Linked DNA regions of Homo sapiens: regions 1, 2 and 4 are each linked to region 3. The links come from fine-mapping of genetic effects on gene expression. A gene starts in region 3. Each other region holds a variant in brackets. All regions are shown on one strand. Distances are between the middles of the regions.

Region 1 (8,109 bases), 220 kb before region 3:
TCTTTGGGGGCAGACCTCACTGTGTAATTGTGATAGGGTGGAGGTCCCTTTGGTAGTGCGAGGTTTTCTTCAGTGTTTCCTGACTCAGTCTGGATAATGATTCTCAAATTGTCTGGTTTCGTCTGTTGAATACACGCGGATGTTTCCACAGCCCCTTCTAGTCCTGAGTCCCATGACTTAAGTTTAGCCACAAGTACTAGTTAAAAGTGTCCACTGTGACCAGAGGGACACAAATGTCTGACTGTGCTGAATGTGTTTCTCTGGCTTCCTAATGCAGTGGTTGAGAGTGATCTTCAGATGACCTGTTTTTTTATCTAGTTTCACAAACAGTCCCAGATCACTTGTTTTTCTCTTCTGATTTTCTCTCCATTGTCCACATTTAGGCCAAGGAGCCTCCCTCTCACACTGCCCTTTAGCGAGCAGTGTGACTGTGACCCTGGCAGTTAGTTCATTCTCTTCCTAGGACTGGGGTCATGACCCAGCCTTCCTCTTCACTGCCAGCTTTCACTCCCTTGTTACGCTGCCTCTTCCAACCAGCAGATGCCAGGAAGGGACTCAACCCAAGCTCTTTCTGGGATCATAGGGTTTTCACAGAATTTTCCTATGAACTGTTTTCCCAGCTACTGAATCAGATCATTTCTCTTTAAAAAATTTTTGTCTTGCTAAGAGGAAAATTGTTATGAAATTTGAACTCGGAAAAAAAAAATCAAGATCTGCAAACATTCATATTATGTCATAAAAGAAATAGTGAGCCTGGGTTCTATCCCGAGACATGTTGCATTTCATTACCAGGAAAAGTAATGCGTATTATTACAATCCTTCTGGGAGGGGTCCTTCCCTGGAGAAAGAAGGGCGTGGGTGCTAGAGGTGAATGCTTTGGGTCACTCAGGCAGACCTTATACCAGAAATCCCAGAGGGGACCTGAAGCTGGGCCCTTACCGGACCTTACAGCTGGGGAACACTGGGGACCCCACTGGGAGAAACCGACAGGGGCAGGGTCTGGAAACGCAGTGCTGCTCTGACATGTGGGGAGTACACACCAGCACGTGTTGGTCTCTGACACACGGGACACTTTCACTCTCACATAGGAAGGCAGAAAAGCAGCATAAGACCCATCAAGAGGAAGCAGGGTGAAAGGAAAGGGGGCAAACATTTATTGAATGTTCACTCATGCTTGAGTTGTCACATCAAACATTACCTTACAGCTCACAATACTGCATTATTAGTATTGTCCTTGTTTTGTAGATGGGATAACAGGCCCACAGGTTGTCATTTATTCACTTGTTCATTCCTTCACCAACCATTCACTGGGAGATTTAGTTTTGCCAGGCGCTACTGAGCAAGGCATCAAGAATACCAAGATGAGACAGCCAGTTCTTTTCTTGAGGAACTCAGTGTGATCACAGTTCTATTATCCTTGATGACTATGCCTATTCTGCTATCCCAGGGAGCTGTCAAAAAAAAAAATAACATAGCCAGTTTACTAATGAAAACGGTGCTATTAATTGTTGAAATGAATGGGAACAATTCCAACTGTCGGATAATCCCCAAATCCCTATTTAAAATCTCTGTTGTTTCTAATGTTCTTCAAATTAATGGCAAATGTAATAAACATTGTTTTCATGGTGAGGTTTAGAAAATGCTTTCTTGTATATTAGCTGATTTGCACCTCTCAGCGTATGAAGATGGACTTAGGAGCAGGAACAGCTCCAGCTCTTGCTCAATCTGCCTTCCTCCCACTATCGCATCGTAAGCTCTCAGATAAGGCAGAAAGCCACAGCCCTGGTAGAATGACCTTTCCTAAACTGGCTGTTTCAGGATGCACTTTCCCTGACATCAGGGAGGTAGTTAAGTGTTCTGATTTAAAACTCTCCTTTGGGGGGATAGTCACCTTTAGGTAAGCTAACACACCACCCAGCAAGTAGGTGAAAGCAGTTTGGACCCCAGTGATGCAATGTGTTACTGTATCTAGGAAGTGTTGAAAATGACCCAGAGGGTATGCAAGTACATCCAAGTTATCCTGATGGGGGTAGGGTGGGGATGCTGTGAATAACAGGAATTATTGGAACTGGTGATTCAGCTTTGATTGGAAAGGAAATAAAATAAATGATTTTTTAATGATAGAGAATTCAATTATAGTCATGGGTTATGTCCCAAATTTATACTTTCCCACATAGATGGGTCTTCTCCATAGATAGACTTCACGTAGAAAGAATAAACAGCACATTGTTTTTGCCTTTGAACTAGGTCTGTGAATGGAAAACCCTTGATAAGAGAAGTAGTTAATGACACTAAGTTGCTGTCACTTAGTGATGTAAGTCTAAAAAAGCTAACATTCCTGCATCTCAGTTTCCTTATCTGTAAATTGGAACTAAAGATCCTGTTACAAAGAGTTGATAGTGGAATAAATGAGGCCATGTAAGATGGTCATACCAATATAGTAGGTTGTAAAGAAATAGGAATTTAAAACTAATTAACTTAAAATTTTTTGATCACGGGAATTAAGATGGGAAGTAAGGTGAGGCTGTCCTGTTATAAAATGGCAGGGCTGTTAATTATTGTTGGCTTAAGTAAGTCTATTAGCAAAAATAGTGCCAGTCAGAATTAACATTTCTCCTGGGTTAAGTCAACTGAGTGGTTAAACAAGGAAGGCCATTGAGAACACTGGAAACACCACATTTTACTCATTTTATTAATAAATATTAATATTAATTAAACAAACTTTTTTTTTTTTTTTGAGAGACGGAGTCTCACTGTTGCCCAGGCTAGAGTGCAATACAGCCTCTGCCTTCCAAGTTCAAGCAATTCTCCTGTCTCAGCCTCCCAAGTAGCTGGGATTACAGGTGTGCGCCACCATTCCCAGCTAATTTTTGTATTTCTAGTAGAGATGGGGTTTCACCATATTGGCCAGGCTGGTCTCTAACTCCTGACTTCAAGTGATCTGCCCACCTTGGCCTCCCAAAGTGCTGGGACTACAGGCATGAGCCACTGTGCCTGGCCCACAACAAACATTGATTAATCACTTACTAAGTTGCATGCTGTGCACTGGCAATACAATGGTGAGCGAAAAGAAATTTCTGCCTGACCCTGGTTGGGGTGGGGGTGGGGGGCATCAATCAAATATTCACACCGATGTGTAGAACAACAACTGTGGTCAACTGCTGTTATAAAAGGCAGGCACCACACGGCACGCTTCAGGAGCACTGGTCTTTTATGGGAAATGGTCATTAGGAAAGAATTGTCTGGTAGGAGGCTGAGTTTCAAAGGTGAAGTTCTCGCCTCCGCAGTCATGACAACAGCTCCAAGGTTGGGGACGTTAAGGGGGAGGTTCAAATTCTTTGACTTCTCGTTAAGACGATTTGAGCTTATTAAAAACTGGCCATGATCTCTCAGAGCATTAGCTAAGGGATACAGCTGGTGATCCTGATAGGGCATTTTGCTCTAACCTTGGAAGAATCCGTCTAGACTCCAGCCAGAACTTGATTGCAGACAGAACAGTGGAGAAAGAGGGGCCACAGTCCTGCAGCCTCAGTCTGTTTCCCTGGTGTTCCTGAGTGGTCCTGGGTACTCACAGGCACCCGAACTCAAGGGTCCAGGTCAGTCCAGAGTGCTTTCATGGAAACGGCAGGCTATGTGTGCCGAGAATGTCGCTCAGCCAATTGCATGGAATTCAGAGTTCCCCTGAGGTTCCCTGAGACTTGGTTCTCCCTGCTCTGATGGGATTTGGGATAGAAAGTGGGA[G/A]TGCCTGGTTAATTTGGAGTTTGAGGGCCTAGTGCTTTCAAAGAGAGATCCCCACCTGGGAGAATCATAACTCACATCCTCTTCCACCCTATACCTACCCGGTTTGGACAAGTAAAAGCAACACTTAAATAAGTGGCAAAATCTGCTTTTTTCCTGTTGCAAATTGAATATTATATGAGGGACAATGACTATTCCCAGCTTGATGCTTTGGAAAGTGCGTTTGGATTTTTCCATTTTAGACAAATGTCAGCTTTCCCCCGAAGTGGCCTCCATCGTGCTTGTTTGTTCCAAATCATTTTTCAATGCTGTGATTTCCCTTCTCTTTGCTTTAAACACTCAGTCACGTGGCTTGTCTCCACCGTGTGGAGGTGCCGGGTGCCTGGTTGGGTCTCTCTGCATTTCTGGCAGGAAGAAGGCATTTGTGAATACTGTCAGTACTTGTGACAGGTTGGTCACATTGGAACCTTTGCCCCTGTTGTTTAAAACCGAAGAAGACTGTGACTGTGGAGGTGCCCCGTGTGCTCAGCGCTCAAATGGGAAATGGAGAAGATTCCCGGAACGTGTTTGGCAGTCACTTCTGAGTTTTCCATTGAGACCCGAACATGAAGAAAATCTTCTGGCTCCTGCCAGTTGGCCAACCTCTGTCTGCCTTCCCCAGCTCACAGGGCTGCACACTGCATTGGGGCTGTCCTCCGCTGCTGGAAAATCACGCCGGTGCTCTTCACAAACACTGAACACTGGCCCTCTGCTTGATCCATGGAACCAAGATGACAGGATCTCCTGCCTGTTCTTGATAACAGCTGTAGTTTTATTTCAGATTTTCATTTAAACAAATAGTTTAAGGCCTCAGCTGGGAAAGAGGATTGAAGTATCCCCAATGGACAAAGCCTCTGGCACGCCAGAAAGACATGTGACTAAGCCTGAGTGACTTTCCTTCCTTCCCCTCCCAGGTTGCTGGGAGAAATAACTATGGGTTTTTGACAACTCTTTCCCAAAATGAATAGTGGAAGGCTGGGAAACACTGAATTATGAAATAAAGCAAGGCAGTTCATTTTGTCATCCTTGGCACCTGAATCCTAAACTACGGTAATGAGATCAGCCCCTTAACGGAGTACTCCAGGGTACCTTGCTCTTAGGCAATTTGTTTTTCTGTGTGTGCTCTTCAACAGACTCTGCAGGAAGTGGCTGACTTGATGCAAATGACTTTTTTGTTTTGTTTTGTTTGAGACAGAGTCTCACTCTTGCCCAGGCTGTAGTGCTGTGGCACGATCTCAGCTCACTGCAATCTTCACCTCCTAGGCTCAAGAGATTCTCCTGCCTCAGCCTCCTGTAATCCCGGGATTACAGGTGTGTGCCACCACACCTGGCTAGTTTTTGTATTTTCAGTAGAGACGGGGTTTCACCATGTTGGCCAGGCTGGTCTTGAACTTCTGACCTGAAGTGATCCACCTGCTTCCGCCTCCCAAAGTGCTGGGATGACAGGCGTGAGCCACCGCGCCCAGCCTGATTTTGGAGGGTTATAGTTGGGAAACTATTTAGTGCGCAGATATTGTCTCTGTGGTAAACGAGGAAACTGACAGGATTCCAAAAGCCTGCTGTTTGAAGGGGCTCATTCAGTTCCAAAAAGAGATGGGAGAGGCAGGAAACGTGAACATATGTGCTGCCTGCCCTCCATTGGTTTGTTTAATAACAAATTCACCCTGTCTGGGCTTGTGACCCCCCTCTCATGTTTGGAAGCGCTACTGCGGGGTTGTAGAGACAAATGAGTCATTTTCTGAGCTCTAATCCTGACCCCAGAGGGGCATGTGGCCACTTCTCCCTGACTTTTCCCGGGGGTGACTTGCTTCCGACACCTGCCGCCTTACTGTTTTTCCTCCTCAAGCAAGCTTGTTGCAGGCACTTCTTCCTTACTTGGTGCTGAACTTAGCCACAAGGAGCTGTCATCACGAGTGTGGGAGAGGGAGGAGAGGGGATCACAGGGGTTTCAGAGGGCTCACTTTGAGACTTGCTGATACTGACAACAGAGTTGACCTGGCCCAGGATTCTTCTAATGCTGCGTGTGACTGTGTGTCTGTGCCATAGTTTTTCAGTGTGTATTCATGCATGATGTATGTGTGTGGGGTGTTGGGGGTGGGGGGAGGGCAAGAGCGTTATTTTCTGGGTCAGAATAACCTTTTAAAATGGTAAGTTTTCCGCTAGGAGAGGAAACCCATTTTGCTCATCTGTCTAGATGTTTTTCTTCACCTGGGCCATGGAGGGCTTTGTTTCACAAGCTTTTCTCCTGTTTCGTCGTTCAGGTGGCAGAGATCGTTGCTCCGCCCTGTGACACACAGCCCACCCTCCATGTCCCACGTTGGGATGGATTACAGAGGATGTGCCCTCCTAGTGGCCCCCGCCAGCCACCAGAGTGAAGTTGATGCTTGGGTGCTATTGTGTCGGAAATTGGTGGGTTCTTGGTCTCACTGCCTTCAAGAATGAAGCCACGGACCCTCGCGGTGAGTGTTACAGTTCTTAAAGATGGTGTGTCTGGAGTTTGTTCCTTCTGATGTTCGGACGTGTTCAGAGTTTCTTCTTTCTGGTGGGTTCGTGGTCTCGCTGGCTTCCGGACTGAAGCTGCAGACTTTCGCGGCAAATGGTTATAGCTCTTAAGGCTGCGCTCTTGGAGTTGTTCATTCCTCCCGGTGGGTTCGTGGTCTGGCTGGCCTCAGAAGTGAAGCTGCAGATCTTCGTGTTGGGTGTTACAGCTCATAAAGGCAGTACAGACCCAAAAAGCGAGCAGCAGCGAGATTTATTACAAAGAGCAAAAGAAAAAAAACCTCCGCGGCAGGAAAGAGGACCTCACCTGATTGCCACTACTGGTTCGGGCAGCCTGCTTTTATTCCCTTATATGGCCCCACCCACATCCTGCTGATTGGTCCATTTTACAGAGAGCTGTTTGGTCTGTTTTACAGAGAGCTGATTGGTCTGTTTTGACGGGGTGCTGATTGGTGTGCTTACAATCCCTGAGCCAGACACAAAAGTTCTCCAAGTCCCCACTAGATTAGCTAGACACAGAGCACTGATTGGTGCATTTACAAACCTTTAGCGAGACACAGAGTGCTGATTGGTGCATTTACAATCCTCTAGCTAGACATAAAAGATCTCCAAGTCCCCACCTGACTCAGGAGCCCAGCTGGCTTTGCCTAGTGGTTGCGGTGCCAGGGCTGCTGGGGGAGCTGCCCGCCAGTACCACACCGTGCGCCTGCACTCCTCAGGCCTTGGGTGGTTGATGGGACCTGGTGCCTCCTACCAGGGGGCGGCACCCGTCCGGGAGGCTCAGGCTGAGCGGGAGCCTAGTGCAGGGGCCGGGGGGGGGGGGGGGGGCGGGGGGTAGGGCATGGCTGCTTACAGGTCCCCAGCCCTGCCCGGCTGGGTGGCAGTGGAGGCCCGTCGAGAATTTGAGCATGGCACGGGCAGGCCGGCTGTGCTGGGGGACCTGGCGCCCCCCTCTGCAGCTGCTGGCCCAGGTGCTAAGCCCCTCACTGCCCCCGGGCTGGGGGCGCAGGCCGGCTGCTCGGAGTGCGGGGGCCTGCCGAGCCCACGCCCACCCGGAACTCACGCTGGCCTGCAAGTGTGCGCCCAACCCTGGTTCCCACCGGCGCCTCTCCCTCCACACCTCCCCACAAGCAGAGGGAGCCAGCTCCAGCCTCGGCCAGCCCAGAGTGGAGCTCCCACAGTGCAGCGGCAGGCTGAAGGGCTCCTCAAGCGCGGCCAGAGTGGGCGCGGAGGTCGAGGAGGCGCCAAGAGCGAGCGAGGGCTGCCAGCACGCTGTCACCTCTCACTATGAACAATTGGCAGGACAGTCATGGTCTGGACCTAAGGAAGGTTTGCTCAGGGCTGACCTACCCACGAGCAGCTGCTCCTGGCAGTCTGAGCGCCTTTCATATTTCCTGTATTAACCTTGTGGCGCACAAAGACAGCATCGAGAACAAGCTAATGAGAATCATCCCTCTCATCATGGAACCCGCATCCCCTGCCTCAAACCAAGCCATGTGCACACGCACACTTGATGATAGCAGAATCGAGGCATCTGTTGACATTTGTCTTCTTTTTGTTTCTAGAGTGTGGTGGGATGCCTCCATCACTGTAGCACTGTCAGATGGGCGACAGCCTTATCGGCCGCCTCCAATCTCAGCAGGATGTGGGTTTTCTTTTTTAACGGGATGCTCTGAAGCCCTTTTGTCCGTGACCAAAAGCATCATTCTTGGCACTGAGCCTGAGGCCTCTTCTCTGACCTCTGCTTCCCTTCCCCTATCTACAATTACTGCACAGTCAGCCCATTGCCTTACTGTACTACTCTGATCATGTTTGATTTCATATACTTAACAT
Region 2 (8,109 bases), 94 kb before region 3:
ATCATTGCGTTGATCAAAGGTAGGGCCTTTCTAGCACTGTTTGTCAGATGAACTCATTTAAAAGTGGATTTCAGGGAATCTTGACCAAGATTTCAGATCACCACACACAAGTTACGGAGACTGTGTTTACTCAGACAATAAGAAAGTACATCTCTTTCTGTAACCTAAACTCTGCTTCTTATTAAGTTTTTACATGTTCAGTCATGCTTTGAGCATTACTTTATTCCAATAAATTAATTTTATCTGTGACTTAAAAGTCTTAATGAGAAGCTATGTAAGTTACATGTGACAGCTGAAGTAATCTGGCTACCATTCATTCTGAAATCTATATTTAAAGTGGGATATAACATTCTTTTTTTCAAAATTTATTTATTTATTGAGATGGAGTCTCGCTCTGTCACCACACTGGAGTGCAGTGGTGCAATCTCAGCTCACTGCAACCTCCGCCTCCCAGGTTCAAGTGATTCTCCTGCCTCAGCCTCCCGAGTAGCTGGGACTATAGGCGCATGCCACCACACCCAGCTAATTTTTGTATTTTTAGTAGAGACAGGGTTTCACCATGTTGGCCAGGATGGTCTCAATCTCTTGACCTTGTGATCTGCCTGCCTTGGCCTCCCAAAGTGCTGGGATTACAGGTGTGAGCCACTGGGCCTGGCTGAAGTGGGATATAATATTGTAACAATGAAATTTTACTATTACATTTTCATGTGTTCACATATATAGTTGAAAAAAATTTTTTTATTAAGTTTTCTTCTCTTTTTAATTGACACAAAATTATACATATTTCTGGTGTACAATGAGATGTTTGATATACATTGTACAAGGATCAAATCAGGGTAATTAACAAATCCACCACCTCAAACATTAATCATTTCTTTGTAGTAAAAACATTCAAAATCCTCTCTTCTAGCTATCAAGTTATTTTGTAATTTGTGTAATATTCTGGTAAAACGGCCTAAACTGGGGTCATATTTCCTCATCAGCCGCATTCTGCTAATGCCAGATGCCCTGGGAAGATCTTCACTGCCATCTTGGAAGGATGCAGAATGTGGTGATGAGGAAGCCATTCTCCCAGGTACAGCAAAGGCAGAGTCTGTTGGCAACCCACCTGAAGGGCAGTAGACTTCTAAATAGCGAGTTGAGGTCCATGTGGGTGAAGCTAAAACCCAGAACACTTTTACTGGCTAAAAATCATGATGATTCAAAACTCAAACCTTCACATGGATGCACCCAAAGTGAATCAACAAAATTTAAAGTCCTTTGAATAGATCAATCTTCTCTAACTAGAAAACAGACCTCATTTTCTCTCTTTGCCATATCATATTCCCAGTAGGCCTGTGCCAATGCCTCTTTGGGTTTCTTTCACTCCCTTTGCAGCTGTTCTTTTGTTCCTGTCTCTCTTTTGTGGCTCCCCAGGGTGATGTGCAAAAAAGCTCCTTCAACCAGGTTTCCACTGTCTTTTTTTCCTACTTAGGATAATGTTCTCCTGCTATCACCCAGGGAATGACATAGAGGGATCTTTCTCCTTCTATATTCATGCAGCTGAGGCACATCTTCATTCTTTTTGTTAATCTTTTTTTCCCAGTTAAGATACATTTTTGTTATGTCCTCTATGGGACACACCTGGGTGTCCATACTACAGTGTGGAGGACCTTGAGGGTAAAATTATCCACAGCCCAGTGGAGTTTGGACACAAAATCTTACATGACTCGATCAATTTCACTTTGCATTTTGCCAGCCCTGAACCTAGGAATCATTCTGTCTTCTTGTTAGCTTACTCTGGTTTCAAATCTAGGTACAAGTCAAACTCTCTTTCAGCTCCTCTGCTACTTGGTCTCCAGGTTCATTGCCTCTGCTTTGGGCTACCCTGGCTTCCTTGCAGAACTATCTGACCCTCTACTGGGGCACTCAGCCCCTGTGTGGTTTCCAAAAGCTGAGCCTCTGTATTTCCTTTCTATCTATCTAGACCTCTTCACATCCTTGACCTGCCTTGGGGCCACCTCAGACCTGGGGTGGCTGATTAGTTGTCTCCCCACCCAGCTGAGGTCACCATGGCTTTCTCCTATCTCCTGTTTCTGAGGTCAGGAGCTGAAATGACACAATTTCCTTCAGGAGCCCACTCTGGCATCTGCAGTTGCACACATGGCACCTGGCTCTCTCTCCCTCTGGGAATCCTCGCCCCGATCCTGGCAGCAGGGAGAGCCCCATTGGGCCCTCCACCTGCTCACGTGGCAGGCAGCCCACACATCCTGCCTGGAAATGCCCCCACAGTGATGCTTTCCTGATCTGGTTTACATCCACCGATCCTGGGTTTGCTTCTTGGTCCCATCCTCCAAGACAATTCCTAGGAGCTTTGAAGAGAAAGGAAGGTCTATGTATATGAGAGGTGATGCCTGCTCTTAATGCCCTGCTATCAGGCCACATTTGGAGGCACAGGTTTTATCAGTTTTGGCCAGACTGCTGTCCACCCAACATAATCAGCACGTACATGACTGAAGGCAGAGCTCTGCTCTAGGGCAACATGTTTTGGGTCCGAGGTAAATAGCAGATACAGAGGTGCTGAGGGGATCACATGAAGTCATGCTGCTGAAGTTACTGTTGCCCTGTACAAAGTCCTTTTTCATTTTTATAAGGACCCCAAGGCACAGCTTTGTTTTAGTAGTGGCTTATATAATTGACTCCCCTCTTTGCCTTGGCTGCTGGAAAGCTTAGCACCAAACCTGAAGGTCACCTAGGGCATAGAATAAACCTGAATGAATTTTTATAATAATCTTAATCACTGGTCCATTTTATATTCTTACCTTTCATTTTTCACTTCTACCCCCAACCCATCTACCTCTAATGTATATTTCCTTGCCAGCCACCTTAAGCCCTTCCTAAATCAAGGAATCGGCAAACATAAAATAAGGTAAACAAACATAAAAATGGGGTTTTATGGAAAACTGAAACAGATCTCTTTCACACCGTTGCTTGGAAGATAAATTTCTAGAGAGCAATAACTACTAAATATTACAATGCATATATTCATGACACAGAAATATCAATTCCAGAAATTTATCCTACAGTCATACTCATATAAGTGTGCAATATATGTTTGATTGCAGCTTGTTTATAATAGAAAAAAGAAAAAGAAATAAGGTAAGTGTACAGGAATGGCTAAACACAGCATGTTGCATG[T/C]ATACAAGGCAACACTATTCGGCCATTCCGAAATGCAAGATTAATATACATGTCCTAACATCAAGGATGCCTTCAATGTATTAAGTAAAACACAAAGACATTTGTGATTAGGGGTACAAACAAAAATTGTCATCCTTAGCATAGAGGCTTTCTCATAATTCAAGGCAGTATTAAGTAACTAACAGATATGAGAAAGCAAAATTGGAGAAGCTGAGGGAGCTATATTCTCTGAATTAGCACAAGTACAGAGCAAGAGTGTGGGGAAGGCAGGTAGAGCCGAGGAAAGATGAGGGGCTGGCCCCCAAGAGAAAGGCTTTGGCAGTTGAGTATTGTATGTTGGGAATCTTGTGATGTTTTGTCTTCACGTGGTGAGTTTTCTTTTCACTCTACCCCCAAAACCCTCAGTAAAACCTACCTTATTTTCCAATACTTTTGCAGCTGGATTTATTTTGGAGGGAACTGATAAAGTACTACATGTGACCTAAAGGCCAGAAAGGGCCAAGGAGAGAGAGACTGCCCAGAGTGACCAGCCCCATTCGGGTCACCAACCGATAATTAGGTCCCATGCAGAATTAGTTCTGGACATATTGGGAATGGAATGTTGAAGAATAGGGAAAGAGTGGGGGAAAAAGAACAAAAAGCCAGATCAACCCTATGTGAAAGGATGTTTTGGCTTAGTAGATACTAAGGTTTCTTTTCATACCTAGATAACAGAGATTTATGAAAAAGGTGAAAGGATCACAGGAGAGAAGATAAGATGTCAGAGTGTCCACAATTAAACATGTGACAGATATATGAAGTACTCGTTCTGACTACATTAGTTGTTACAGGCATATCAGCATTATCTAAGAAAAGAAAAAAGACGTTTTCTTCATTCAACATTCCCCTCACTGCCCACTGGACCTCTATGCAACTCGGCTTTTTGCTCTCACACAGAACTGCCCTGACTGTTTCTATGAGCGGCTCTCTCTCTTCTGTAACTGAGCACCTCTTTTGGAGCCACTGCTTTTATGTACTGTGTGACCAGCCCAGTGAGGAACTACATGGAGCAGGCCTCATGGATGGGCTTCTGGGGCTCTCAGATCCCTGGAATGTTATGCAAACTATTGTGTACATACATTTTCTGGAGCAAGGGCTCTGGCTGAACTATCAATGGGAAGACTCCACTCCAGATGTCAAGAACCTTGGATTTAGAAGTCTGATGTGGAACTCCCCTAAGAAAAATCCTATTATTGAAAACTTTTGTTACCTCTATCATATTTAGATATGTATATACATGTTTATTTCTCAAGGTAGGTGTTGCACACGGACTTTCCTTAATTTAATATGATGTTGTAATAACCTGGGGCTTTATCAGTCCTATTTATGTTTCAACAGTACAGTCATTCTGAGGGGCTTTTGTTTAGGTTGCTGACTCTACTTGTTAGCCCAGAATTTACTTCCTCAACCAGACTGCGGCTCTTTAGGACATGGACCACATGTTTCTGTGTTTTTGTATTTCTAAGGTCTAGCACAAAGCTTGGCAAACATCTGGTACTTAACAAATAATAAGAGCTCACAATAACTGGGTATTCAGAGTATGTCACACACTGAGGTGTTTGTGATTTCATTCCTTATTTGATAGGTGAGGAAAACGAAGTCTTAAATGCAGATCCATTTTGGGAAGACTGTAAACCCTCGATGTCAACCACTCTATATAAATCTTGTTAAGGGAATGAATGCTGAATGATGGTTAACACTTTCCATTATGTAGGTAAAGACACTAGGTATCAGCATGGGGGCAGGGCAGCTGCATCAGGAACTCAGGTTACCTGTCCTCCATTTAAGTGTGTTTTTCCTTAGAGTTTTCTAATTTTGAAATGGTCTTTATTCCTTATTAGAAATGAAAGTGAGGCCAGGCGCAGTGGCTCACGCCTGTAATCCCAGCACTCTGAGAGGCTGAGGCGGGCAGATCACCTGAGATCAGGAGTTTGAGACCAGCCTGACCAACATGGAGAAACCCTGTCTCTACTAAAAATACAAAATTAGTCAGGTTTGGTGGTGCATGCCTGTAATCCCAGCTACTCGGGAGGCTGAGGCAGGAGAACCGCTTGAACCCGGGAGGTGGAGGTTGAGGTGAGCCGAGATTGCACCATTGCACTCCAGCCTGGGCAACAAGAGCCAAACTCCATCTCAAAAAAAAAAAAAAAAAAAAAAAGAAATGAAAGTGAAATCCTGTATACTAATTGAGCCTATTTCACCTGTCTCTGATTCCAGAACTCTTGTGTATAACAATCTTGCTCATTAGTGGATCAAACTTCTTACTGACACAGAGATGTCACCACGAACATCTATAAGGAAAGCAAAATCTTTCCTCTTCTGCGCACCTTCTCTGTTGGGGATGCCAAACTCAAATGCCTGCAGAGACTAGTAGATCCTGGAAGTGACAAGTGGGCTGGGTGTGAATGTGAACTGGGGCAGCCATGTGGGAGCCCTAATCCATTATGAAGGGAATAGCCACTCCTTGGCCCAGGGTGACTAGATCTTTAGAATTTTAAGAGAAGCCAGAAACACAGATTTTATGTAGAATCTCTTGAGTTTGAGATGTTGATGATTCATTCCTTTTTTTTTTTTTTGAGATGGAGTCTCACTCTGTTGCCAGGCTGGAGTGCAGTGGCGCAATCTTGGCTCACTGCAATCTCTGCCTCCCGGGTTCAAGTGATTCCCCTGCCTCAGCCTCCTGAATAGCTGGGACTACAGGTGCGCACCACCAGGCTCGGCTAATTTTTTGTATTTTAGTAGAGACAGGGTTTCACCATATTGGCCAGGATCGTCTCAATCTCCTGACCTCATGATCTGCCCGCCCCAGCCTCCCAAAGTGCTGGGATTACAGGTGTGAGCCACCACGCCTGGCCTCAAATATTTTTTAAAACCCCAGCACAGGCCAAATAAAACACATCTATGGTTAGGTGGGCCTGTGGGCCACCAGTTTGCAAACTTAGTTTCATCTGGGGAACATCCAGAACCATCTTCTGCCCAGTGTGGCATACTATAGGCATGAAGGAGAGGTAAGATTAGTATTTTAAGTTTTTGTTTGTTAGCATCTCTATAACAAGGTTTAGTGAGGGAAGTGGTGGACAGAGATGTTAAAATTGTTTTTAGACTATCTGTGGATTTCCAATATTCCATCCATGGCCCCAGACTGAAAGTCAAGAGCAGTTGTATGTGTATACCTTCCTTAAGCCACCATTCAATCTTTGTGCTGCACAAAGAATCAGCCTGGTGAGCACTGACACACGACTTCAGCTTTCTTCAAACTGATTGTTAGTGTGCAGCACTCTGTTGAACTTGCAGAAAAATCTACAGCCTGCCTTTTCCCTCTTACATTACATATACTTCTGATGGGCAGCAAGTTGGCCTCCAGCAATAAACAATGAATGACTGCTTCCTAGGCATCTCTGGATAGTCACTGTCCAGTGAGGAAGAAAAGCTTCTCAGAATAATGGAACCTCTCCTAGTAGGGGGACTCTACCTCCCCTTTTACTCAAGCAAGGCTGTGCAAAACATCGAGTAAACTTTCATCCATTCAGGGATCAACTAATCCAATCCATGAGCATCTTGGGCTCTTGGCCTGCTTTTTGGACCACACAACCTCAGAGGCTTTGATGGAGGAAGCCATGAAAAGCCTAACTTAGTAAGACGAGTCTTCTGAGACCTTTAAGAATTTGTTCCTACTCCAGATGTAAGTGTGTTTGGAGATAACTTCCTTGAGTCTTACTTTCTTTAAATACATTAGAGAAATGGTTGTAGGATATTAATGTACTTTGCAAGGCTTTGGGAAATACTAAACACAGTGTTCTCTTCAAAGTGAAGGTGTTACATACATGTTTAGTTTGAAGAGAGATTTATGCTTGTGCATGCACAAAATTTCCCTCTCACTATACCAGCAAATTGAGAATTGTCCAACCTTTTTTCTTAAACAACAAAGGAAAATATTACATCAAATACCTAAGCCAACAGTAACAGAGTACCGAAGTAGGATAATATCAAATATTATGTTCAGGGTGAAATTTAGTTCTTCATATGCTGCCAGGCATGCTCTTTTTAATTTTACCAGAAGAACACATTACTTGACTACTATGGTATTTAGAATTCCTATACTGGAATATTCCCAAGGCTTTTTTGGAAAATATCTAGGGCTGTTTCTAAAACAGCACTTTCTAATTTTGTTAACACCTTCCTTTCCTTTAAGTTAACTTGATAGATTGTGCCTTTCTAAGCTTCAGATTACCTCAGACTTTTCAATACCTAGTTCCAACATGTTATGAGGACAACTCAAAGATCATGAAACCTGGTTCCGCTGTCCAAACATTTACTTCTGTGCTTCATTCAAACTGAATTCATTCACTGCTGTGCTAGAATAACTCTCTATCTCCCGCCTCCCCAGCTTCTCTCACCTGCCTGCCTGCTTCCTGTTGCATCCTCAGTGACACCCCTGGCCTTGTCACACAGCACAGCAGTTCATGTCTTTCCCTGCTCCCATCTTCCCTATACCATGTCTGAACCCTTGAGCCATAACATGGATGGACAGCAGCAAATGGCTCTGTCTTGATGGCAGGGATGGGGAAGGAACAGCAAGGGAGCTGGTGATTCTGCTTAGACCCACAGTGGGCCCCGGGATGACTGACAGTGAGGGAGGCTGTCCCAACACTACTGGAGGGGAAGCTGACCTGCTTTGCAGCTCTTCCCAAGGCAGTCTGGGCCCCATCTGCAGAGAGTCTGACTTAATTATTTTCAGAGTCCCAGATGACCTAATGCACAGTCCTAGGATCTACTAGATGGCCACAGTAGCAAGGGGTAGTAGGACAAGCAAGGGCTTTCACATCAGAAGACCTGGGTTTGAACCTTGGTCTACTAATGGCTAGCTGTAACATCTGGGGCACATCAACTCTC
Region 3 (8,109 bases):
CCAAACACTCAGCTAAGAAAATAAAATAATGATGCCAATCAAGAACAGTAATGTACGCTCACCATATACCCCCTCTAGTTCCCAAGAGTCCAAAGGGAATTCTGGACTAATTCCTGTTAACACAATGGGGTTTGCACACACTACACCCCTCCCCTCCATCCTCAACTCCAAAGATACTGACTCAGCAACTGGCCTGGAGCCAGAGCAGCATATTCCAAATTCAGAGTGTGCAACAATGCTCGGTTCAATTATGACATAATGGCTGCAAAGCTGTTCCTGAAAGCCAAGAAAACCTGAATAATGTGGTTGGGTTATATCATACATGAGGCCTTAATAGAGTTTAAAAACCAATTTGAAAATTCCTTCATTCCATAAAGATAGCATTAAGATGAGGGCAAAATCATTCTAGTTCAAGGGATGGGAAAAAAGTATATAAGGAATTAGGCAGGCTCCTTTCCACATTATCCTTCTTAACCAACATGACCCATTCCCTTTGACGATATCTCTTATACTTAATACTGACCTAGAAAGAAGGCAATTTCATTAAACATCTTAGTCTTATTGTACCCAGCTAGTAATGCAAGTTTCCCTGCTATTTAAAAAGCACATAATCCCATTTCCAAAAACAACTGTTTGCAATTCAAAAACCATCCACCCAGGCAATGTCTTCTCTTTGTCCCTAAAATTCCACCCACTTTCAATTTATCTTGTCAAAGAGATAAAGTTATCTTTGTGCCCCCACAAAACCTAAAAGATGTTTCATTCATTGCTTGCCATTTTGTAGCAAGTGACTTTGGACATTGAGTTGCTAAATCCAGCATTTCCCTGGACTTGTGATAACAGTAAGACCCAGGCCTGTAGAAATACAGTCTTCAATCTGAATGTTGGGAGCCATCCACTCTTGCTTGACATTAGGCTGTGGCATCCCTCAGTTATGTGGGATTCTACAATCTTTTGAGTCCTATTCTGTTTTTTAATAGCTATCATTGATAGAATTTTTTTAATGTTTTGGAACTGGAAGTGACTTTGGAGATTCCCCTTGCTTTATGTATAAGGAAACTAATGCTTAAAGTCTTTCATACTATATTTTTTAGTTCATTTCTCTGTATTTTCTCCTGGAACAATGGCATATTTTTATATATAATGAGATCAACACAGAATTTCAGAACTAGAAGGCATCTCCAAGTTCAATCCTCTTTCTTCCCAAAAAATCGCAAAACACTTTTCATATTAATCCTCAGAGTATACCAATTAACAGACACTTCATTTTGTATAAGGCTTAATTTAAGGATGGAGAGAATGAGGAAAGTCTCAGTTTCAGACAGTAGAATTCTTTTACCATAAGAATTAGGCTCTGTTCTCTAAATCTAAAAAGATTCACATCCATTTCATTTTTGAACCTGGAGAAATGGCTGAATTTACTGAGTTTTCTATTAAATAATAGAATCATTTTTCTTCACTGGATGGAAGGACTATGTGTTTTAAGAAACAAAGAGTTTTAAAAAAATCAAATAATTCAACGTCATGTCCTTCCCTCCTGACTAAAAATCATTTCCCCATTATTTCATGATTAACATGAAAAAGCACTGGAACAATGAGAGGAAATTCATTTGTTTCCAGTTGTAACAATGCGATTTCTGCTGCAATCCCATTGGCAACAGAAGGCAGCAGCATATACCACCACTGTCCTATTACAACACAAAAAGCTGTCAACTTTGAACTCCTTTGAAATGTTGTTAGTAAAGTAGAAAAGACAAGTGTGGATTTCCTTCAATATTATTTGGGCAACCTAGACTTAAAATAGTGACCAGACTTAAGATAGTGACTCTACAGAGGTCCTCTATCCTTAAGGCAAGACCAAACCAAGATACTGGTGCCCTACATAAGCTAATAATTTGGCACACTTTCAAACAGATACTCTTCAAATATTTGCTAAACAGGTGTTTGGGTGAGGCGTTGCATGGCAGGCCTGGAGAAAGTGTGGAGACAGGACTGGTGGAAGCTTTTAGCTTGCATATTCTAAACAACAAAGGACCCACAACTGACCAGGCCAGATCTCCTTGGAAGGCAGTTTGAGGAGCATCTAATGTATTCCCAAATACACTCTTCCCTGCTCCAAGCTGTTTATTAAAGCATTACTTCTGTCTCTAGTAACAACCTGAAAGGAGGTGACTGCTTTATATTCTTTTCAGTATCTTGTTACATTCTCAATGTTTTATACTTTTTATAGATCCAACCTCCCTTCAGGGACACTATCTTTTCATTTCTATAGCTTGTACTGAGCATTTGCAATGTGCCAGGTGCTGTGCCATGTATTAGAAATATAAAAGTGATTAAGATATTGTCACTGCCCTTAAGAAACTCACACCTTGAGCAGGAGAAAGACTCACAAACAAATAACACAATACCACAGTGATGAAGGCTACAACAGTAAAAAGGCTGTTACTAGATATTACTGGTGAAATGGTCTGAAATCCTTGGAGATGGATACTTTCTAAAAATAGTAGGTAGGTTCTTTCAGTTTGCCTCCATATCTAGGAACTTTAACTTTGGTAAGGATTGGAATAAAAAGAGAGTAACATTTTCATGTTTCCTGTTCTCCGTGGCTGTACTGGGATGGGAAGTTAGGGATGTGGAATCATGTCTAAGATAAACTTAGCCAAAACTTTTCATTTGCATATTCTTCCCCAAATGATTTTGTCCCTAGAATTTGTTATGCAATACTAGGGGAAGGATAGAGGAAGCTCACCTAGTCCCTGCTGTGTAGCTACACATACCTGATCCAGATGATTTCTCCCCTTCGAAATAATTGCAAACAAGATTAAAACTGTATTCAGGAAGTATTCCAGCTGGCTTTTGGCTTCCTCTGATGTACAGTCCTTGAATAAAGCAGTAGCAAAAATTAGATTTAAATAAGGAACATAAAAACACCTCGCTACTTGTACCAGATCACCTCAAGGTCCTGCTATGTTTGAAACCCCAAGGCCTAGCATTAGAGTAACTGAATACATCAGCCAGCTAGAGTATATACAAGTTATGAAATAAAAAAACTTTAATAATAAAAAATAACCTATTTTAAAGGGATTTCTCATAGTGCCTCTGAGTACTTTAGAGCCAGGCATCTGGAACAAAATAGAAACACAGTCCAATCAACTCCCAAGTTGGAAAAATCCTCATTTCTATTACTTACCTGCCAACAGTCCATCTAAATAAAACCACACAGCCACATATTCCTCTGATGAAGGAGACAAAAAAATATTGATCCTTCCTTGGCATGTGGCTACTGCTGCCAGAGCAGGAGGGAAGAAAGACAATCTGAGGATCCTGCCTGTTTAAAGCACCAGCCCCACCAATCTTAATTTTCACAACAGGGTCTTTCTGGTTCCAGGCAATTCCTCAGCAGAGCAGGACGCAGGTTATTGGGCTACGATATTTCACACAGAACCATGATTAGTTCTGCTTTGCCCCAGTATTATCATAATTATCCAATATTTCCAGGGTGTATCTTTTTTCCCCGTGTTTTAAATCTTTCTAATTACCTATAATGCACCCCAATGTATACAGCTCCAAATATTGGTAGAGAGCTTCACATGCATTTTTATAAGCTAGTCCTCAGAATATGACCAAATGAGAAGACTGCGACCTCTAATAGACACCTCAACTTGTTCAGCATTGTGCACCAAGGCATAGCTCTAGTGGCTGCTTAAACAAGACAATGTATACTAATTCTGGGAAATGCGCTAGAAAGTATTGGGATATAACAGATCTTAGACACCATCTCTGTCCTTGAGGAATTGAGAATCTTGGGGTCAAGCTAAGGCCATACTATGGATTTTTTTTTTAAGGGCACTAAAATATAAAGTACCACATATACACTATTTATTAATAAACAAGAATAAAGATCACCCAAGCAAAACATTCCCTGTGAAAGACAGCCTTAGAAACAGTCACAAGCCTAACTCACAATGACATTTTAGTGGGGACTTTTCTACCCTTGGACTTATTAAAAAACTGTATGAGCTGCTATTTGTCAGAAGTGAATATCTGTTGAGAATGTACAGTTTCTGATTTATTCTCTCATTGTTCAGTACCCAGAGGGCTGCTTTTGCCCAATAAGGCTGAGAGGAGATCCAGACAGCTCATCCAGAGAGCCCCGGCACTCACAATGTTCCCTGCTGCACCTTTCAACCTTTTCACCCCAATTAAAGGTCAACATGGCTGCTCAAAAATATTTATTTAAAAAGGCAGTCAGCTCAGCGGGCTCCCAAGTGTGATTACACTACCACTTCATAGAATTCAATTAAACCCGGGACGGGGCATCGGCGAATCACTGGAGGAGTATGAAGTTGAGATGTTTTCTGCTTTCTCGAGATGTTTTCTGCTTTCTCTTAAAAAAAAAAAAAGCTTCCTTTTCCCGCCCGTCATTTATTTACTTCCCAGAGCGCTATCACAGACACACACACACGCGTTTATAATCTCCCCCAAGTAGTTCATGGATTTATGGCTCCCGGTTTAATTAAATTCCGTATAACGACTATCCAAATGGGCAGCACGCGGCACAGCGAACCCCCGCCAGCCTGCGCGTCAGCTCAGAGGCGGAGACCCGCGAGCGCTCACCCTCGGCGCGGGACTAAGGGAACCCACCTGAGCCTCACGCCGCCAACGCCTCTGCTTCCGCCCTGCGCCGGGCACTTCCGCCCGCACCCACCAGGCGCCGGCCCCAGGCCCCGCACTTCCGCCCCACGCCGGCAGCACTGCCGCTGGGCGTTCTATCTCAGGTGGTGTCCCGTCTACGCTCTCAAGGGTGGCCGCGCCTGAACCTTTACTCGTGAAGAGTGACACACAAACCAAGGCCAAACTAAAAAACAAAATACGGAAAAGTGACCCCGCATGTTTGGGAACCATTTAATAAGAGGCCTCAGGTGCGGGAGCCAACTTTTTGAGGCTGCGGAGTCCGAGCCATTTTAACCGCTCTGCATGCATCCATTCTTTCGTTAATTTAATATTTACTGCCTCCTCCACTAGGTCTTGGCTGAACTAGGTTATGGGGAATGCGATGAGCAAAACTGGCAGCCGTACCCTCCCGCAAACTGAAAATCGTGTGAGAAAGCAGATATTAGGAAATTATCCCTTATTAAATAGGCCATGGGTTTATTCAGCTAAGTGCTTTGCAGGGAAGGAATATGAGAAAAGACCTGAGTGGGATCTCGTTGAAGAGGTAGCTTTGGGGCTGGGATCTGAAGGGCGTGGGTTGGGGACAGAGCTCTGCAGGCTGGGGGAAGGGTCTGGTGGAGGATGTGCAGTATGGGTTGTATGCGGAAGACTGACGAGTATGGCTGAGACTTAGAGGGAATGGGGAAGAGAGGTGGAAACAGGCTAGAGAGGGTAAGCGAGAGTCTGGCCATGCAGGGCCTTTCAGGTTTGTGCTAAGGGTAGCCGGGGGGCATTTCTGTTTTATGTGGGAAGGGGATTGAACTGATTGCTTTTCCCTTCTGAAAGGACCCCTTAGCTTTGGGAAGTAGATGGGAAGGGTTTAGGATAGGCAAGAGTAGAACAAGCAGGGAGGTGAGGAAGCTACTGAGCATTCCAGGTTCTAGGTGTGGTGGCTTGAATGGTGGTACAGTAAATAATGAGAAAATGATGGATAATAATTATAGTAATACTCAAAGCTAACATTTATTGATTGCTCACCAAAAGCTTTATACTCATTAGTCTGTTTAATCCTGAGAACAATGCAATTAAGTATTACTAGTACCATTTTACAGATGAAGTAATGGAGGTTTAATAACTTGCTCAAGTTCTCACAGTTACAAAACGGTAGATTTGGAATTCCATCTCATGCTGTCTGACGCCTTAAGCTTACCACTATAAATTCAATGTGTACTCAGTGGTTTTAAAAAAGATACAAAGCAAACCAAGGTCAGGAATGAATTCTTTAAACAAACCACACTGATTATGTGATGTCGCTAGAGGCCACATTAAGATAGTAGAATTTACAAGTTCTTTGTCACTTCAGCATTTTCTGATAGGCTAAAGAGGGAATTTTGTGACTGTCAACAGACTACCTATAGTTATTTTTGAGTTGATGCACTCTGATAAGACTTAGTTTTTCTGGAAAAAAAAAAGTCAATTGATAAAGCACAGTCCACCTAACAGTTGCTGATAGGATACCTTTAAAGAAGGAATCTGGGATCTAGTTATAAACACCTTGGTGGGGCATGAGTATCTTAGATATTGTGGAGTGACAGAAAAGCTTACTAGAAATGTAACTCCAGATCAGCTTCCAAATCTTATTTATTGTTGGAAAACAAAGGTTTATAAAATCACTTGGACTTATGAAACCTGATTTCACCCACTGAAGGAAAAGAATGGATTCAACCAAGGCCAACAATGAAGGCTTTTAGCACTGGTTATGAGTAAATTTCTCTAAGGAGCCAAAAGTTCATAAATTTTCAGAATTTGAGTTTAATCAGTAAGAATTTCTTGGGTTTGTAAGTGATAGCGGAAGACCTGGAGCCTCCACATTATTGTTTTGGTTAGAGGGAGTCCTGTCGAATGTCTAGGAATCCCTGAGAACTCACTATGGTTGATACCCTCTTTGGGAGTGCCTGGCTGACTGCCATGAGCTCAGAGGACCAGTTTAGCCTCTAGGTCCAGGGCCTACAGTGCTGGGGAAGGGAGCTCTGCTTGGGAAAATATCTGGAGTCTGGCCAGGAAAAATGTCTACAAAACCAAAAAAGAAAAAAAAGGACACTCATAGCAAAATTAATGAACATTTATTAAATGATCACAAAATTGAACACTGTGTCAGCTTCATTAATGGATGGGTTTAGCATTTATAACAACTTCATTACATTGGAAAACAATTTTTAGATGAGATGCTCTCACCAAGTGAGAGTTCCTGAGTATATGTGATGAGTGTAGAGAAATTATATTTTAACTTTTAGCCACATAATTTCACAAGCAAAATTTTAAAAATCCTTTTATAGAAAAATTATTAAGTGTGAAATGTATATACCTTTTAATATGTTTCAAATGATGTGAGTGTTTTAAGAATATGAAGGCCTTAAGACAGTTCTGGATCTTGTACAATTTTGTTCATTCAAAACATGCTTGTCGCCGGGCATGATGGCTCACACCTGTAATCCCACCATTTGGGAGGCCGAGGTGGGCGGATTACCTGAGGTCAGGAGTTCGAGACCATCCTGGCCAATGTGGTGAAACCCTTTCTCTACTAAAAATACAAAAATTAGCTGGGTGTGGTAGTGGGCACCTGTAGTCCCAGCTATTCAGGAGGTTGAGGCTGGAGAATTGCTTGAACCCGGGAAGCGGAGGTTGCAGTGAGCTGAGACTCCATCCTGGGCAACAAGAGCGAAACTACGTCTCCAAAACAAAACAAAACAAAAAAATGAACAAACAAACAAAATAACATGCTTGTCATTAGGCATTTGACTTGCATGTCCTCCTCTAGGTCTGGACTGCAATTCTAGGCTATGCGCTACCAATCTGGATAGGACTGATGCAGGGATATCTGTGTGCTAGAATGTTCAGAACTCAACTGGGTTGAGTTTTTCAATGGTCATCTCTGAGGCAGAAGCCTGGTGTAGAGAAAGCCTGCTGTCACAGTCTGATCTGTAACTCCTGACATAACTCCAAAGGTACTTTAGAGGACACATGACCTATTCTTCCAGAGATGACCTGGAGCCAGGCTTCCCTCTTAAGGCCTCTGAAAGGTGGCCTGTGTGGGTGTGGAGGGAGGCATCTTCACTCCTGTCCTCTTAGCTTTGCCTCTGGCAGGAATAAAGAAGTGGGCTTTGATGTCAATATGTTCCCTTCAGAATGCCTTAGAAAAATAATGTATGTCTTGGCAAGTAGTGACTGTCATGCCAGCTCTGTTTTACAGTAATTTGGCTGTGTGTTGCCACTCAAAGAACGTGCAATTTGAACTTTGACTAGGAGGGACAGTCTCAGTAATTGCCACAATTAGGTGATGCGATTGTTTTGGTGGAGGTATTCAGAAACTTGGTAGGTTTTCTTTCCTGGTGTATTTCTGGACTTTATAGTGAGCATATTTATCTCATGAGTCGCCCATCCTCAGGTCTGCAAACT
Region 4 (8,109 bases), 120 kb before region 3:
GCCCAGCTAATTTTTGTATTTTTAGTAGAGACAGGGTTTCACCATGTTGATCAGGCTGGTCTCGAACTCCTGACCACAGGTGATCTGATCACCTTGGCCTCCCAAAGTGCTGGGACTACAGATGTGAGCCATCATGCCCAGCCCTCAGTAGGGTTTTGAGTTTTGGTACAACTGTAATCTAGGCCCACTACCCTGTAAGAAGGATACACAAGTTACAAAACAACCAGCTTCGACAGCAAACTTGCATTTTTTCTAGCTAGACTCTTTTTATTAGGGGGAGGGGAGGGAGAATGAGCAAGAGACAGAGGAAACCTTACATTTTAAAAATCTCTCTTTCAAAATTTATAAAGGTAGTATATTCTCATAATAATGCAAATTCACTCATTAAAGGGTGGTATAAATGGAGGCTTAACATTTCCATTTTATACACTATACCTAGTCCTGGTAACCTCTTGTAACAATTCTTGATTTTAGTTCTTCTGGTGGTGCTTTTATCTCCTCTTGATTTATCAATTTTAAGTAGTATCTATTAACTTCCTGTCCTTTACGAAATTTAAAATTAATAGAAACTTAGCTTTTTACCATTGTTCCCTCCTTTCCCCACGTTTTGTTATTTTTATTTTTATTTTTTTACTTTTAAGGCCTTTGCTATCTTTATAACTTTAAATAATATGCCTAAACGTTTATTTCTTAATCCATCAACTTGGGACAGTATCTTAACCACCCCCAATTACTTCAGTTGGGGAAACTGGCCCTATTTCACTTCCCTCCATTGTTCCTCCTTCTTCTATTACCCAAATCCTCTTAGCCATATAATTAATTTTGCATTCTTAAGGTTTATAACGCGAATTGCCTATAATCTTAATTGTCTTCCACAGATTCTCTAGAAATAAATTCCAGAAAATGAAAACAAAGAACATTTCAATATTATGATTCTATAGATATTATTTGCTTCAGAACCAAGTAGTGTAATTGTACCCTGAGAGAAGGAGATGCAAAGTCTCTTAATGGTGTTGCTTGAGGGAAAATGTTCCAAACCTCAAGGTCAAGTCTGTTTTTATTTTAGTATATTCCACAAGCTGCTCAAAATCAAAACATTTTCATTTGTTTTATAGTTGCACTACAGATTTCTTATGAAGGTTTTTGTTTTTTCCAGGCAGTTCTAATTGCCTTTTTTTCTTGTTGACAAAAACAGCATATTATTTCACTTTAATTTCATTGAACTGTTTAATCAAATCATGGCAGAAAATCCATGTTCTTCTTGAAGACATGCTTCCTATTGCTTTCAAACTTCATGTTGTAATTCACACATACTGTTTTCTAAACCTGCCACTACCCTAGGATTTTTAAAAATTGTATTCTGTGAGATTAGGATGAATATTTGCTTGAATAACATTCTTTCTCTCTTTTGGGTTCCCTGTTTTCTTTGTTAGAGAACATTCTCCAAAAAAAAAATCACAATCTTTGATTCCAAAGGATTTCCAAAAATCTTTATTCTGCTTTTATATTGATGAATGGCTCAATGGTACGTAAGTTCTAGGTTCAAAAAATTTCCCTCAGAAATTTGAAGTAATTCTTTTAATGTCATATTGCTATACAATATGGAAGTAAAATGCCACTCTGATTCTTACTTCTTTGTAAGTAACTTTTTCTCCCTCTGAATACTATTAGCATCACATCTTTATCTTTTGTGTTCAAAATTTCATAAGGAGTTGCCTTTTAATCTGAAGGCTCTTGCCTTTCCTCCACTCTGGGAAATGTTCTATTATCTCTTTAATTGCTTGTTCCTCCCCCTTTGTCTGCTCTTTCTGACGCTCTCATTAATCAGATGTTGGACTTCTAGGATTGGATGTCTATGCCCATTAAATCTTCTCTTGTATATTCTACCTTTTTATCTTTTCGTTCAATGGTCTAGGAGATTTACTTGACTTTATTTTAAACCTAGTAAATGAATTTTTAATATAATCCATCATATTTTTAATTTCCACTCTTTTATTACTTACTCCCATTTATGTAGTAACCTCTTCTAATTTTTATTTTTATTTCTATTTTTATTTTTTTGAGACGGAGTCTCACCCTGTCGCCCAGGCGCAATCTCCGCTCACTGCAAGCTCCGCCTCCTGGCTTCACGCCATTCTCCTGCCTCACCCTCCCGAGTAGCTGGGACTACAGGCGCCTGCCAACACGCCCGGCTAATTTTTTTTTTTTTTTTTTTTTTTGTATTTTCAGTAGAGACGAGGTTTCACCGTGTTAGCCAGGATGGTCTTGATCTCCTGACCTCGTGATCCGCCCGCCTCGGCCTCCCAAAGTGCTGAGATTACAGGCGTGAGCCACCGTGCCCGGCCTAACCTCTTCTAATTTTATGGATACAATTTTTTTTTTTTTGAGACAGGGTCTCGTTCTGTCTTTGAGACTGGAGTGCAGCGGCATGGCCATGGGTCACTGCAGCCTCCAACTCCTGCATTCAAGCAATCCCTCTGCCTCAGCTTCCTGGATAGGTAGGACTGCAGGTATGTGCCACCATGCCCAGCTAATTTTTAAATTTTTTTGTAGAGAGGGGTCTCCCTATGTTGCCCAGGCTGGTCTCAAACTTCTGCACTCAAGTGATTCTCCCACTTCAGCCTCCTGAATTGCTGGGATTACAGGCGTGACCCACCATGCCTGGCCCCAGTTTCTTTTTTTTTTTTTTTTTAAGTTTAATAAATAGAGCGCACTCATGCATTTACAACTCAGAATTTTAAAAAAAGTTTACATTTTGTCATTTGTACTTCAGATGAATTTTCTTATTAAAAGAAATAAGGCCACAGAGGTAAACTTAAGTCTCCTGTTTCCCAATGCCTACCCTCCTTCTTCTCCTTTCCTCTTTCTCTTTCCTAGAGAAATCCTGCCTTCCTTTCCCTTCCCAGAGGCAACTGGCATTATAATTTTTGTGTTTTTCAGTACATTTTAATATTTTTACTACACATAGGCATCTATAAACAGCATATAGTATCATTTTATGCATATTAAAATTGTACCATAACATCCATACTCTAAAGTCACTTTGTTCGCCCAACGCTGTTTCTGAAATCTATCCATGTTGATACATATGGATCTAATTTATTCATTTTCAACTGTTATGTGGGTTCCACCATATTCATTCATTCAACAAATATTTATGTGCATCAGCAATGTTCCAAGAAATGTTCCGGTGGCTGGGAGCACAGCAATGAAGGAAACAAAATATGAACATACTCTAATTTATTTTCATCTCTCCATTAAGAGACATTAGGTCTCATCATGACAAAAAAAATGCTTCAGTGAACATCCTTGTACAGGGCTTCTGTTGCAAGTGCTTCTTTGGGAAATATTTGTTGTGGTAAAACTGCTTGGTTATGGACCACATTTCAAATTTTAGCAGGTATTGCCAACTTGCTTTCCAAAGTGGTGTACCACACTACATGCCCAGTTTCGTTCATCCGGCCCAATATTTGGACAGTCATGTTTCTTTATTTTTGCCATTATGAAGGGCGAGAAAGGGTAGTTTTTGTTTCAGCCAGCATTTCTCCTAATTGTTAGTAAGGTCAGCATCTCTTATGTTTATTGGTTCTTTAAATCCGCTCCTCTGTGTATTGCCTGAGGGTATCCTTTGCAACCCATTTCTGTAGTAAGTTGTCCGTCTTTTTTATACTGATTTGTAAGGATTCTCTGACTATATAGTCTGAAACGTTTTTTTCTGCTTTATGTGTTGAAAAAATATTTTTCCAGTTCAGAGTTTGTCTTTTAGCTTTACTCATAGAGGCTTTTGCATAAAATAGTTTTACTTCTTAGTGTAATCTTTCCTTTATGAATTGTCCTTTTTTGTGTACCGACTGAGAAATAATCTCTTCCCCACAGTCATAAAGATATTTGCCTGCATTTCTTTCTAATAATTTTAAAGTTTTATTTTTCACTCAGGCCCTTAATACATTTAAAATTATCCATTTGTATGGGATGAGACATTAATCTACCTTTCTTTTTCATGAAGAGAACTAAATCACTTATTAAATAATCCTTTCTTTTCCCACTTATTTTTAATGCCTTGTCTACTCTATGCCAAATTCCCACATACATTTTGGAGATTGTTTTCGGAGTTTCTACACTGTTAAAATGAATAGGTCTCAGATTTTTGTCAGAACCTGTTTTTAAACAGTTTTCTTCTAGTCCTCAAATTGTCCATCTGTACCGCAACCTAACGATTTCTTTTGTCTTCAGTTACCCTGAAGATATTTTTAAACCAAGCCTCTTTGTTTATAAATGAAGAAACAAAGATGCAGAGATCTTATATTTCCCATTCAGGTTTACACAGCAAGACAATTAGAAAGCTTGAACTAGGTCCAGGCATGGTGGCTCACGCCTGTAATCTCAGCACTTTGGGAGGCCAAGGAATGCAAATAGCTTGAGCCCAGGAGTTCGAGACCAGCCTGAAAATACAGTGAAACTCTGTCTCTACTAAAAATACAAAAAAACAAAATTAGCCAGGTGTGGTGGCGGGCACCTGTAATCCCAGCTACTTGGGAGGCTGAGGCAGGGGAATCACTTGAACCTGGGAGGTGGAAGTTGCAGTGAGCCAAGATTGC[G/A]CCACTGTACTCCAGCCTGGGCAACAGAGTGAGGCTCTGTCTCCAAAAAAAAAAAAAAAAAAAAAAAAAACCAAAAAAACAACAACAAAAACAAAAAAACAAACAATAACAAAAAAAAACCCAGAAAGCTTGAACTCAGATCTTAACCTGCATCCCAATCCACTTTCCACTAATGCCTTCCTCACTAAAAGTTTCCATTTTCTGTGAACATTTTACTTTCATCAGTAGTTGAACGAAACTGCCCATTTCACCAAATCTTTGTCATGACTAGGTTTTATCATTTAAAACATCTCTTTGAATTGGCAGGTTAAGAACGGTGTTTCTTTCTTTTTAAAATATGGGGTCTCACTATGTTGCCCAGGTTGGCCTGGACCTGCTGGCTTCAGGTGATCCTCCCACCTCAGCCTCCTGAGTAGCTGGGACTATGGGCACATGCCATGGTGCCACTGTGCCCGGCTAAGAATGGTATTCTTTTATTAGAGTTTTTTTTGACATAAACATTTTAGTAAATATACATTAAGTAATAAATATTCCTTTAAAACTTTATCACGTTTCTTGGCCATAGTATTTAGTCTTTTTTATTTGTCTATTCATGTCTTTTCCTTACTTTCCTATTGAGTTATATTTTTTGCCTTTTTATTAGTGGTGCTTAAGAATTCCATGTATATATTAAAGATAGTAACCTTTTGTCACATATGTTTAACTTTAAAAACATTCAGTTATTTGTCTTCTAATTTTGTTTACAGGCTATTTGACACATAAGCTTTAGAAGTTAAACCTATCAATCATTTTTTCTGCAGTCTCTTCCATCATTCCTGTACTTCCAAGTGCAGATAAATACTCATCCTAGATTTTTCTATAGCTTTATGATTTCATAAAACCTTCAATCCATTTGTAATTTATTTTGGTGTATTGCATGATGTTAAAAAGTAACTTTCATTTTCTCCCAATGGTTTCTCAATTGGATCAATCTTATTTTTGATAACTTCTTTATTTATATGTCATCTTTATCTGTAGTAAATTCTTATACATACTTGAATCTGTTCCTAGATTCTGCTTCATTAATCTATTTTTGTAAAACATCACATTTAAAAATTATTATAGACTTATAATTCATTTTTAATAACTGGTAGAGGAAGATTCCCAACATTACTGTGCTCAGATTTTACTCATCATTTCTGTTGTTTATCCTTCCTGATATTTTTAAAATCATCATCTAAAATTGTTACCTTGTTAAAAATGTATTTAAGCTGAACAATAATATAGAAAGAATTGTGTCTTGCAAATATTTAGTTTTCTCATCTAGGAACATAGTATTTATTCAAATTTTCTTTTATTTTGCTCAGTATTTTAGTTTTCCAAATATAGATTTATTACTGAATATTTTATACTCTTGTAAATGGGACATTTCCCATTACATGTTATAACTACTTATTGCCCATACACGGGAAAGCTATTGATTTTAGTTTTATTTTGTATACAGATTTTTATTATCAAATTTTTATTTATTACTTTGTGTTGATTCTTTTAAGTTTCTAGGTAAACAGAAATATAACATACAAATCATGGCTATCTTTCTCCTCCTTTTCTCTGCTTTCTGTTTCTTAGATGGGCAGTAGCTTCCAGAATAATACTGAATGATCATGATGACAGGGAATATCTTTGTCTTGTTTTACATTTTAATAAGGTTACTTGATTTTAATAAGGTGCTTCCAGTTTACCATTAACCGTCCTCTATATTGTTTCTCTGGCCAAGACAAGTGATTATATTAAGATGTATATTAGTTTAATAAATGGTCTAGCTTGCTTACTTTTTCTTGAATTAAAGCTTTTTCTTTACAGAGTTCAATTTTCTTAAACTTCTAAAAGCCCACTGCTTTTGTATTCTGTATTTTTTCTTTTTCATGATCTAATTCTTCATATTCCATTCTAGGTCCCTAGTTACTTCTGATCTAATCTGCTCATCACTGCCTTTAAATTAATTAATCTTTGAATCCAAAAAGGGTGTCAGGACTGGGAAGTATATAGAAGACAGATCAAGGGTACTGAATATTCTTCTAGTTAATAATCAAATGTGACTTTTTTTTTAAAAATGCCACTTGTTTACTTGAATAGAAATTGATTGATTCCTGGCACACAGAGGAGACAAGTTGACAACGGCCATTTGACTGATTTTTAAGTGTAATGTGCAATTAAAACAAACCTAACTCCACAATGATGGGGCTATTTTAAAGCAACATAGGATCCAAGTGAATGAGCTACCACTAATGACCAACAGTGGAACAATCTAAGTAACGAAATAAGTGAAGTATTATATTATTGCCAAAGTATAAAATGAATACCCATTAGTCCACACTGCTTTAAATAAATGATTGAATAAATAAAGGGGAAGGGGGAGAAAAGACAAATCTCTTGTGCAGATGAAATCCAAATAATTTATGTGGACACTGACCAACACTGACCATAAGGAAGTGGAGCGTAACTCCCTATTCCTTGAGTATAGGCCATCTCTTCCAAAGGCTATAGTATGGAAAGGGGGAAGGAATAATTTTACTATGAAGAAACCTGACAAACGCTACCTCAGCCAGGTGATCAAGGTCAACATCAACAGTGATAGGGCATGTTGGTAGTATGTTTCCTTGATATGATGTGATGAAAAATAGCCCTTTACTTCTATGGGCTTCCTCCCTTAAATCCATAATCCCAGTCTATTTATGTGAAAAACAGCAAACAAATCCCAAACAGTCCCAAAAAAGGGACTTTTTACAAAATAGCTGACCAGCATTTCTCAAAACTATCTAGGTCATCAAAAACAAAGAAAGTCTGAGAAACTATCCCAGCCAAGAGGAGTCCAAGGAGGCAATGAAAACTAAATGTATCATAGGCTCCTGGATGGGATCCTGAAACACAAAAAGAATGTTAGGTAAAATCTAAGTAAATATGAATGATGTATGGACTTTAGCTAATATCATAATAATGCATCAATCTTGGTCCTTTGTTCTGACAAATATACCACACTAATGTAAGACATTAATAATAGGGGAAAGAAGGTGCAAGGAATAGGGAAAATCCCTGTAATATCTTAGCAATTTTTTCCTGTCACTACAAAACTGTTCTAAAAAAGAGTTTATTTAGAAAATAATCACACCTTAAATGATCACGGCCAATAATTTTTGAATGTTCTTAAAGCCGTAATTACTATACCTCCATGGAAAACAACTCAGTAACTAATAGACAGTAAGCATTGCTTGGTATTCCGACCAGCAGCACTTCCTCTACTAATTACCAATGTACCTTTGTCTCCTAGGTTATTAGTTAGTTATAGTTCCACCGAAGGCACTCAGTTATGCTCTAAGAGCTCCTCTGAGAAAACCGCAAGAAGAAATGGGCATAAATTGCAGCAGGAGGGGTTTGAGTTAGAGTTTTAGAATGCTATGAAGTCAAGCTGTGTGATATTCCCTGCTAATTATCTTTCCAACGGTCCATACAACGGTTTGATCCAGCCTGGTTT

Direction of the effects. Positions count from the first base shown, and alleles are read on the strand shown. Sizes are in standard deviations (SD) of each study's normalised expression. Not every link is listed here.
With allele T in place of C in region 2, the expression in hypothalamus of the gene that starts at base 4,696 in region 3 is higher (small effect, 0.37 SD a copy in GTEx).

The links. PIP is the estimated chance that this variant, and not a neighbour inherited with it, causes the effect. A credible set is the group of variants that fine-mapping cannot tell apart.
Region 1: its variant is the best candidate, but not a certain one, in a credible set for the expression of C5orf63 in whole blood (TOPMed, PIP 0.83).
Region 2: its variant is the best candidate, but not a certain one, in a credible set for the expression of C5orf63 in hypothalamus (GTEx, PIP 0.51).
Region 4: its variant is the best candidate, but not a certain one, in a credible set for the expression of C5orf63 in esophagus muscle (GTEx, PIP 0.85).

What each region holds. Positions count from the first base shown.
Region 1 is chr5:126,847,524-126,855,632 of GRCh38, forward strand. No RefSeq gene overlaps it. Among named protein-coding and RNA genes, the nearest start is that of LMNB1, 74 kb to the left of the region's middle. RefSeq lists an enhancer at 1-640. The variant G/A (reference allele first, on the strand shown) is at 3,742.
Region 2 is chr5:126,974,598-126,982,706 of GRCh38, forward strand. All of the region lies in intron 1 of MARCHF3 (membrane associated ring-CH-type finger 3), which reads right to left. Among named protein-coding and RNA genes, the nearest start is that of MARCHF3, 52 kb to the right of the region's middle. The variant T/C (reference allele first, on the strand shown) is at 3,178.
Region 3 is chr5:127,068,807-127,076,915 of GRCh38, forward strand. It overlaps C5orf63 (chromosome 5 open reading frame 63), which reads right to left and starts at 4,696. Exons shown (of 5, transcript NM_001164478.2): 1 at 4,645-4,696; 2 at 2,778-2,879. RefSeq lists a silencer at 4,553-4,772 and an enhancer at 7,978-8,109.
Region 4 is chr5:126,952,004-126,960,112 of GRCh38, forward strand. The region is part of intron 1 of MARCHF3 (membrane associated ring-CH-type finger 3); the gene reads right to left. Among named protein-coding and RNA genes, the nearest start is that of MARCHF3, 74 kb to the right of the region's middle. The variant G/A (reference allele first, on the strand shown) is at 4,599.